Homo sapiens: one gene and its partner. The protein of the gene in region 1 interacts with the protein of each later gene in a pairwise test. Each region holds a gene or a part of one and is shown in the gene's direction. Other genes may lie near its edges.

What was found.
Region 2: the proteins of PREX1 (region 1) and SIM2 interact in a two-hybrid assay, tested with the Homo sapiens proteins (one large-scale study listed by BioGRID and IntAct).

What each region holds. Positions count from the first base shown.
Region 1 is NC_000020.11:48,824,679-48,829,681, reverse strand, and holds the start of PREX1 (phosphatidylinositol 3,4,5-trisphosphate-dependent Rac exchanger 1 protein), read left to right. Parts: upstream 1-1,682; 5' UTR 1,683-1,821; coding exon 1,822-2,040; intron 2,041-5,003.
Region 2 is NC_000021.9:36,697,362-36,702,148, forward strand, and holds the start of SIM2 (single-minded homolog 2 long isoform), read left to right. Parts: upstream 1-1,753; 5' UTR 1,754-2,385; coding exon 2,386-2,560; intron 2,561-3,154; exon of another isoform or gene 3,155-4,787. UniProt on the Homo sapiens protein: Transcription factor that may be a master gene of CNS development in cooperation with Arnt. It may have pleiotropic effects in the tissues expressed during development.

The sequences.
Region 1 (5,003 bases):
GTCACAAAGCAGAGATACTCCAGAGGCCTTTATTAGGAATAAAAATATAAATAAAAAACCAGCTACCTTTGGACACAATTGACTCCACTACCCAAGCGTGACAGGCTCACCTATCTCATGTCCTTTACTCCCTGCCCAGGGGAACTTCACTCAGCCCAAGGCCCAGATCAAATGCTACCTTGCCCATGATCCCAAAGAAAGAAGTCAGAGAGGGCAGAAGCCACCCCATTCTCTCCCTGTGTCCTTAGGCACTTACAGTATTGAGAGGCCAATGGGAGGAAAATCCTAGGCTTTTGGAACAGGAATAAATAAGCAATGTTTCTGTCCATAAAATGACTACAGTCTAGAGGCGGATACTATGTGGATCACTTTATCCCCTGCAGAGACGATACAATCTCTGGTCCGGAAACACGGGTGATTAGGGATTGTATGGGCCATTTGAGAGTGGGGCCAGGCTTAGAGGGCCGTTCACACATGCAATAATAGTAAGAACAAACATTTACAGAGAACTTTCTAGGTGTTGGGCTTCACACATGCAATAATAGTAAGAACAAACATTTACAGAGAACTTTCTAGGTGCTAAGTACTTCCCATGGAACCCCGGGGAGGACCTTGGAGCTAGGTACCATGATCGTTCCCGTTATACTGATGAAAACACTGAGGATCTTGAAGCAAGGAAACCAGCCCAAGGCCACCCGGCCAGCAAGTGGGGAGCTAGGATTTGAACCTGAGCAGCTGACTCTAGGCCCCAGAACTTCCTCCCCTCTCCATACCTTCCGATAAGGCGGGTGATGATCAACATTGCCCAGAGCAACCTGACAAGAAGCTGGGTTTCCCAAGGCCTTATCCCATGGGGTGGGTGGATGGAAGGGGGAGCAGGCAGGGTACCTGCCACTTGATCAATAACTCAAGAGCAGGTAATAATTTCTTCTGGGAAAGGTGGAAAGGGCAGGGTCAGGGGGCAAAGAAGTTCAGAAAGAAAAGGAAGGAAGGAAAGAGAGAGATGGGAAAGGAAACGGGAAAGAGAAAAGTGAGAGCGAGCGCGCGCCACGCATGTTCCTTCCCAAGGTCGTGGTAGCACCGAGGGCACCGCGAGGGCCCGGCGTTCCCGGGAGGGGCCGTCACTGCCCAGAGAGGGGCCGTCACTGCCCAGGCAGCGGTCGCCCCTGACTTCCCGGGGCCGCGGAGGCGCGCGTGGCGGGGCTGGCTTGCCCCCGAGCGGCTCCGCAGCGAGCTTTCCCAGCCCGGTGTTTACTTGGCCCGAGCAGCGGCCGGACCTGCAAGCAGGAGCCTGCGCGCGGCGGGTGTCGCGTGTGCCGGGTGGGAGTGGCGTAGCCCGCGGTGACTGCGGGTTGGGGGGGCGCCACGCGTCCGGGCGCGGAGTTGGTACGCTCGGTTCGGCGTGCGCGCGGCCTCGGACTCCCGGCTCCGCGGGGCCCTTCCGGAGGCTCCCGCCCGACCCCCGAGCTTCCGACGGAGGCGCCGAGCGCCGCGCCGCGTCCCCAGGGGCCCCGTGCACGCGCAGAGCGCCTCTGCGGCCGAGCGCGGCGTGGCACTTGGCAGACGGTCCCTGGCGCGGGGGCGGGGGGCCAGCCGTCTGGGAGCCCCGAGGGCCGCCCCCTCCCGCCCCTCGCCCGGCCCCCGCGCGCTGCCTCCGCCCCCGGCCCAGCCGCCCGGCCCCCAGTCCCGCCCGCCGCGCCGGGAGCCCGGCCCGCCGCTGAGCCCGGCCCGCCGGCGCGCCCCGTCCGGGATGGGGCGCCTGGACGCCTGAGTTGCCGCTCGGCGCGACGGAAGGAGCCGGCGCCGCGCGGCCGCGCTAGAATGGAGGCGCCCAGCGGCAGCGAGCCCGGCGGCGACGGGGCCGGGGACTGCGCCCACCCGGACCCCCGGGCCCCTGGCGCCGCGGCGCCCAGCTCCGGCCCCGGCCCGTGCGCGGCCGCCCGGGAGTCCGAGCGCCAGCTGCGCCTCCGCCTCTGCGTCCTCAACGAGATCTTGGGCACCGAGAGGGACTACGTGGGCACCTTGCGCTTCTTGCAGTCGGTGAGTGTCGCTCGGGAGCTTGGGGACAGCTTTCCCTCCAGCCGCTCGCCCCGCTGCGGTCCCCACAACCTGTGGCCGTGGTCCCCGTGGGTGGAGAATTGCCTCGGGGGCGCCCCGCAGGGCGCGCGGAAAGCGGGGGGGATCCGAGCTCCTCCAGAGCTGTCGCGTCGCCTCCCTCCCTGGCCGGCGCACGGTCCTGCTCCGACCGGGGCTCTCCCGCACTCCACTTCCCCGCGGCGCGCGCTGCCCTTTTGTCTTTTCTTCCCCGTCCCCGCCTTTCAAATAGTTTTAAAATTAGTTACATCCGCGATGCAGGGGCTTGGGGACCCCGGCGGCGCCGGGAGCTGGCGCTCCTGCGTCTTTTTCCCAGGAATAACTACGCGCCCGGTGCACCACTCATCTAGGACATACCGTAGGAGCCCCAGAGCCCAACGTCCCTGCGCGTTGATGGAGTAGGATAAAACCTGAAGCTCAGAGGAGGGGCGGGGATTGACAGAACCCCAGGGTAGAATCCCCCATGCACAGGTTTTTGCTGGAGTTCGGGGAGAGTGGGTTTCGAACTCAAAACTCGGCAGTCCAGGCTCCCTAACTGCATCCACCCCCACCAACTCCCCATCTCCAAGTGCAAAACCACGGCCTCAGACTTTGTAAAATAACAACCGACCACTTACTATGTGCCAGACACCTTACATGTGTCATTAATTAGCAGGTTTAACCTTCACAGGCGGTCTATGAAGTAGGGACGAGTATTTCCCCCATTTTTAATTAAAAAAATTTTTTTTTGAGACGGAGTCTCCCTCAGTCACCCAGGCTGGAGTACAGTGGCGCAATCTCGGTTCACTGCAACCTCCGCCTCCCGGGTTCAAGCAATTCTCTTGCCTCAGCCTCCCGAGTAGCTGGGATTACAGGCACGCGCCAGCCACCACGGCCGACTAATTTTTGTATTTTTATCAGAGAGGGGATTTCACCATGTTGGCCATGCTGGTCTTGGACTCCTGGCCTCAAGTGATCCGCCGACCTCGGCCTCCAAAGTGCAGGGATTACAGGCGTGAGCTACTGGGTCCTGCCTCCTCCGTTTTTAAGATTGGGAAAGTTTAGCTCCAGAGGGGCCGGGTAGCTTGTCTGGGATCGCACAGCTGATTAAGTGGGGGTACTGGGCTTTGAACCGGGACTATCCCAGCTGGTGTTCTAAACCCCTATTCTATGCTGCATTTTTCTTTTGCTTTTTTTCTGTGAGAGGGAGGAAGGGGCCACTTCCCTACTCTCCTAGGAAGTGAGAAAAGTGGCCAGCGGGTGGAGGGGGTGGGACGGGGCAGAGCCTTGGATGGAAGTTAGGAGACTCTAAAGTCTTTAATCTCCATGCCTCCTGCTGGGGCCTCATTTACTCCCCTTCTCTGCTCTAGGAAGTCTTTTAATCCTGGTTCAGGAAGGGCTGGTGTGGGGGTGGCTCTTTCAAAGACCCTAGAGCCAGGCTTTGTAGCTCCTAGTCTTTGGGAGAAAGAGGGAGACTCTGGGGTCCTCTGGGGCTCCTCATGGCTTAGGGGTGCAGCTGAGGCTGTGTGAGATCAGAGTTCCAGCTCAGGGAGGAGACAGCCTTAGACTAGAGCCCTTCTGCCTGTGAAAGGAGATGTACTGGGGGCAGGGGGATGTGGGAGAGGGGGTTGTGCAGAAGCATTGAAAACCATTTGGCTAAAGGACCCTTCTAGGAAGGCCTGTAAGAATAAGGCAGGATTGGCTTTCTTTCCCATCCCTTCTTCTCTCACAGTTTCGGGGGTGGGGGGTGGGGGAAGAATTTGTTCTGTTAGAAGCTGGCAGTTTTTGAATTAAACATGTAGACAACCCTGGTGTCTCTGAGCAATGTCAAATTCTAGGGAACTCCTGACTTCTCCTTCTGAGCCACTCCATGCTCCTCTGCTTGGAAGAGAAACAGGAAATACAAACCAATTTTGATATTAATGGGAAAGAAAATATACCTCTCCCTCCCACGCCCCTGCCCTAGATGGTGTGTTTCATTTTAGAACAGATCTAGATTGTGTTTGAGTTAACTGTGGTTTTAAATCGTCCACGTGTAGAGTAGGAGGAAGCTGGAATAATGGAAATTGATTGGAGCCAACCATTCTTATTATTCAAGAAACAGGAAAAAAAAAGATTTCTCTACTTTCACATTATCTCCTTAACACTTTACATTTGCTGACTTCATCACATTTTTCTTTTTGTATCTGATGTGTCAGTTCTGAGATGAATTGGTTCTGACTTGGACATGTGTCTTGGACCAATCATGCTACGTGTCCTGACCTCAGTTTCCCCACCTGTGAAACAAGGAGCGGGGAATCCGGGCTTCCTTTCTGCCTGGGCCTTTTGTGTGTCCCCAAGCTGGTGCCAGAAACAGACGGATTGTGTAACCTGACCAGCCATACGTTGTTTGTGAGCCACAGGAGTCCTCTCTCATCTTGGCCCGTCAGGAATGGCCCCTAAACATCCCAAGGCATTTTCGTTTTCAAAACTAACCTGGGGCTTAGAGCTTCAGGAACTGCTAATTACCAAGGCTTTCCATGGTTGCAAGGCTGGCAGCCTCAGGTTGTGATTCTCTTCTGTCTTCCCACTCTCTCTTCTCAGCCTTTATATTTGCTAAGGGATTTTCCCTGCTGTCTCCTGGCTTGGAAGAATGCACGGTAATCCCTCCCTGCTTTTATTTCCATGTGGTTAGAGGCAGGCCTTAAAGGACCACCCTGGTCTCCGTGTGTCCTTGGTGTGAAGGTCCCATCGGCCCATGGAAACCGTGGAAAGTAACCCCCGTGATAGGGGCCATGTGTGGCTTCTGTCCTCAAGGAGAGGACGGTGTAGTGGAGGATGGCCAAATGGGTGTTTAAAAAAAACAATCCAAGTGCAAGGCTCTGGAGCCAGACTGCTTGAGGTTAAATCCTTGGACTTGTGACCTTGGGCAAACACCTTAACCTGTTTGA
Region 2 (4,787 bases), on another chromosome or scaffold:
CGCGGAGGTGGGTCCGACTCGCCAGGCTTGGGCATTGGAGACCCGCGCCGCTAGCCCATGGCCCTCTGCTCAAGCCGCTGCAACAGGAAAGCGCTCCTGGATCCGAAACCCCAAAGGAAAGCGCTGTTACTCTGTGCGTCCGGCTCGCGTGGCGTCGCGGTTTCGGAGCACCAAGCCTGCGAGCCCTGGCCACGATGTGGACTCCGCAAGGGGCTAGGGACAGGCAGGGGGAGAGCCCGGGTTTGCGCACACCTTCCAGCCCCTGGAGGGAGCCTGCTCGGCTTCGAACGCCTTCGAACTTTTGACCTTCAAAGGAGTCCCTGGAAAAGGTCAGGAGCGCCTGCTGCAGGCACGGTTGCCGAAGGCCAGGCCTTCCTGGCGCAGGGGAGGGCCAGGGGAGGGAAGCGGATACTCAGTCGCTGTCCGACGGCGAGTTTTCGGAGCAGCAGGCTCATGATCCCGGGCCAGTGGCGAGAGCAGTGACACCGAGAACCCAAATCTCCGCGCCCCCATCCGCGGCCCGGTGTCCTCCCGGCCCCTGCTGACCTCCAGGTCACGCACCCCACTGCTCCACGGCTCTGCAGCCTGTGGCACACGGCCGAGAGTCCCCACATGATCTCGACGCCAAGGTAAGGAATTGCCCTGCGTCCTCTGAGCCTGTCTCTGGCCTGGGGGGCCGGGAAAGCTGCACTCCTGGAAGAGGTGGGGTTATGTGACCGCCGCTGCAGGGGTGCGCGGAGGACTCCTGGGCCGCACACCCATTTCCAGGCTGCGGGAGCCGGACAGGGGAGGGCAGAGGGGGGACAAAAGGACTCTTTAGGTCCAAAATGACCCTGAAGGAGAGTCCAGAATGCCCAGTGGCCGCGTCTGCAACGGAGTCTTCTTTCTCCAATTGCCTTCTGCCCCATCACCATGGGCCCCACCTGCGCCACCTGCGCCCACCCTGTGACCCTGGCTCAGCGACCTTGGCCCTTAATCGCCCAACGCCGATTCCTCAAAATTCCGGCTGCGCTGAATCGGGCTGCTTTTGCCGCCGCCCCGGCAGTTGGGCCCTGTTTCCGCCGGCGCCCTGGGAGAGGCCTCACCACTCGGCTGGGCTCCCTGGCCCCTCCCTTCCCCTGGCCTGAGCGCCCCTGCGGCCTCCCGCTCCTCCTGAGAAGGCGACAATCTCTTTGCACCTTAGTGTTTCGAGGACAGAAAGGGCAGAAGGGTCACTTCGGAGCCACTCGCGCCGTTTTCACGTGTGTGTGTAATGGGGGGAGGGGGGCTCCCGGCTTTCCCCTTTTCAGCTCTTGGACCTGCAACACCGGGAGGGCGAGGACGCGGGACCAGCGCACCCTCGGAAGGCTCGATCCTCCCCGGCAGGGCGCCTGGCCAACGAGTCGCGCCGCCTCCTCTCGGCCGCGCCTGCTGGTGACCTTCCCGAGAGCCACAGGGGCGGCCTCGGCACCCCTCCTTCCCTCGCCCTCCCTGCCGCCCATCCTAGCTCCGGGGTCCGGCGACCGGCGCTCAGGAGCGGGTCCCCGCGGCGCGCCGTGTGCACTCACCGCGACTTCCCCGAACCCGGGAGCGCGCGGGTCTCTCCCGGGAGAGTCCCTGGAGGCAGCGACGCGGAGGCGCGCCTGTGACTCCAGGGCCGCGGCGGGGTCGGAGGCAAGATTCGCCGCCCCCGCCCCCGCCGCGGTCCCTCCCCCCTCCCGCTCCCCCCTCCGGGACCCAGGCGGCCAGTGCTCCGCCCGAAGGCGGGTCTGCCATAAACAAACGCGGCTCGGCCGCACGTGGACAGCGGAGGTGCTGCGCCTAGCCACACATCGCGGGCTCCGGCGCTGCGTCTCCAGGCACAGGGAGCCGCCAGGAAGGGCAGGAGAGCGCGCCCGGGCCAGGGCCCGGCCCCAGCCGCCTGCGACTCGCTCCCCTCCGCTGGGCTCCCGCTCCATGGCTCCGCGGCCACCGCCGCCCCTGTCGCCCTCCGGTCCGGAGGGGCCTTGCCGCAGCCGGTTCGAGCACTCGACGAAGGAGTAAGCAGCGCCTCCGCCTCCGCGCCGGCCGCCCCCACCCCCCAGGAAGGCCGAGGCAGGAGAGGCAGGAGGGAGGAAACAGGAGCGAGCAGGAACGGGGCTCCGGTTGCTGCAGGACGGTCCAGCCCGGAGGAGGCTGCGCTCCGGGCAGCGGCGGGCGGCGCCGCCGGGTTGCTCGGAGCTCAGGCCCGGCGGCTGCGGGGAGGCGTCTCGGAACCCCGGGAGGCCCCCCGCACCTGCCCGCGGCCCACTCCGCGGACTCACCTGGCTCCCGGCTCCCCCTTCCCCATCCCCGCCGCCGCAGCCCGAGCGGGGCTCCGCGGGCCTGGAGCACGGCCGGGTCTAATATGCCCGGAGCCGAGGCGCGATGAAGGAGAAGTCCAAGAATGCGGCCAAGACCAGGAGGGAGAAGGAAAATGGCGAGTTTTACGAGCTTGCCAAGCTGCTCCCGCTGCCGTCGGCCATCACTTCGCAGCTGGACAAAGCGTCCATCATCCGCCTCACCACGAGCTACCTGAAGATGCGCGCCGTCTTCCCCGAAGGTGAGGCCTCAGGTGGGCGGCCGGGGACGCTGGGGAGCCCGGCGGCCCCGGCCCAGGCGGGAAGCGCAAGCCAGCCCGCCCAGAGGGGTTGCCGCGGCCTGGCGTCCAGAGCTGGGGCGTCTGAGGGAGGTTGCGTGAGGGTCTTCGGCTTCGGCGCTGGCTTGGGGCGAGGGGCCAGGGCCTTGGCGGCCCAGGCGACCAAACCCTCTCCTGGTCCAGGGCTGGGTGAGGGCGAATTACGAATTGTTCCAGGGGCAGGCAGTCCCCCAGCCCGCACGGCCAGCGAGTTCTTTCTGGTTTTGTTCTTTCTCCCTTTCCTCCTTCCTTCCTTCGCCAGTGCATTCTGGTTTGGTTTGGATTTTTTTCTCTCTTTCTTTCCTTTCTTTCTTTCTTTCTCTTTCTTTTTCTTTCTTTCTTCCTCTTTCTTTCATTCTCCCCTTCCTTCCTTCCTTGGCCCCCTCTCTCCCTCCCTCCTTCCTTCCTTCCTTTGCCAATGCATTGGTTTGTTTTCTTTCCTTTTCTGCTTTCCTTCCTTTCTTTGGAAGTTCACTCTGGTTTTGCTTTCTTTCTTTCCCCATCCCTTCCTTTCTTTATCCCTCCTTCCCTTCCTCCTTTTCTTTCTACGATTCCCTTTATTTTTCCTTCATTCCTCCCTCTTTTTGTCTCTTCTGGAGGAGGTGAAGGAGGGTCAGCTTCAGGCGCTGCGAGTCAGCGGGGATCACGGTGAGGCCCAAGCACTGCAGGCTGAGGCCACAGAGCGAACACTTGTGCTGAGCCGGGCCCTCTCGTGAGGCTGGGGTGCGGGAAGTCCGGGCAGGAGAGACCCGCCCCCGCCGTTGCTGAGCTGAGACCCGGCTGAAAGAGAGGGGTCCGATTAATTCGAAAATGGCAGACAGAGCTGAGCGCTGCCGTTCTTTTCAGGATTGAAAATGTGCCAGTGGGCCAGGGGCGCTGGGACCCGCGGTGCGGAAGACTCGGAACAGGAAGAAATAGTGGCGCGCTGGGTGGGCTGCCCCGCCGCCCACGCCGGTTGCCGCTGGTGACAGTGGCTGCCCGGCCAGGCACCTCCGAGCAGCAGGTCTGAGCGTTTTTGGCGTCCCAAGCGTTCCGGGCCGCGTCTTCCAGAGCCTCTGCTCCCAGCGGGGTCGCTGCGGCCTGGCCCGAAGGATTTGACTCTTTGCTGGGAGGCGCGCTGCTCAGGGTTCTGGTGGGTCCTCTGGGCCCAGGAGCTGGGAGGGCTGCGCCGGCCTCTGGAGCCCCGGGAGCCAGTGCCGAGGTAGGGAGACAACTTCCGCCGCAGGGCGCCGGACGGTCGGGGCAGAGCAGGCGACAGGTGTCCCTAGGCCGCAGGGCGCTTCCATAGCGCCATCCCCACCAGGCACTCTACTCGAAATCGGAAAGCTCGACCTTTTGCGTTCGCCTCTGCCAAGCCTGTTATTTGTGCTGGCCGCTGGGTCTGGAGCTGCGCTTCTCGGCCCCTCCCCGGTGGAGCGCAGAGGGCTGGTCTGCAAGCGCGGCCTCCAGCCCCGCGGCTCCCCGGCCCAGGAGCCAGGCGCGGGCTGACCCGGGAGCACCCGGCAGCGGAGGGGGCTGGAAGCGGACCCTAGGCCTCTCCTGTGCCACCCGGCCCTACCGCGCGGCCGCGGGGCGCTCTCCTCTCGGGCGCAGCGGTCCTTCAGCCCAGGGCAGGTTCCTCCCTTTCCTACTCGGAACGTGGCAAAGATACCCCAGTCCCAGCCCCTCCAGCTGAGAGCTGTTGCCCAAGGTCGTCGCTACTTGTCCGCTCAATGGTGACCCCTTGGCAGAGAACTAGGGATGATTCCACTCCGGTTGATGTTTTAGGGGAAATTAAAAGAACATTCGGTTTTCTGAGTCTCCTTCCGGGGAGGCGTGGTGGTAACTGGTTTGCTGGGAAGAGCCGTTCCTTAACCGCATGCAACAAAGCAGGTGTGGAATCCGGACGAGAGGGCACTCACTGCCTTCTGCCCCCTTTGGAAATAGAAAAAGCCTTCGAAGCAGCAATCCAAAGATCAAATGATTTGCGGTCAATGATTTCAATTAAACCAGAAATTAGTAAGGGAGGGCCGAGAAGACACGGCTGCTCAGAAGCTGTTCGCTGTTTGAGGGATTTCCCGGAGAGCCTGTTAAAAGATGCGAAGTGGTGGGTGTACCGCTCAGCCACCTTTAAACCGGCTCTGTGCGTTCTGGCTCTGGAAAGCAAGTCTCC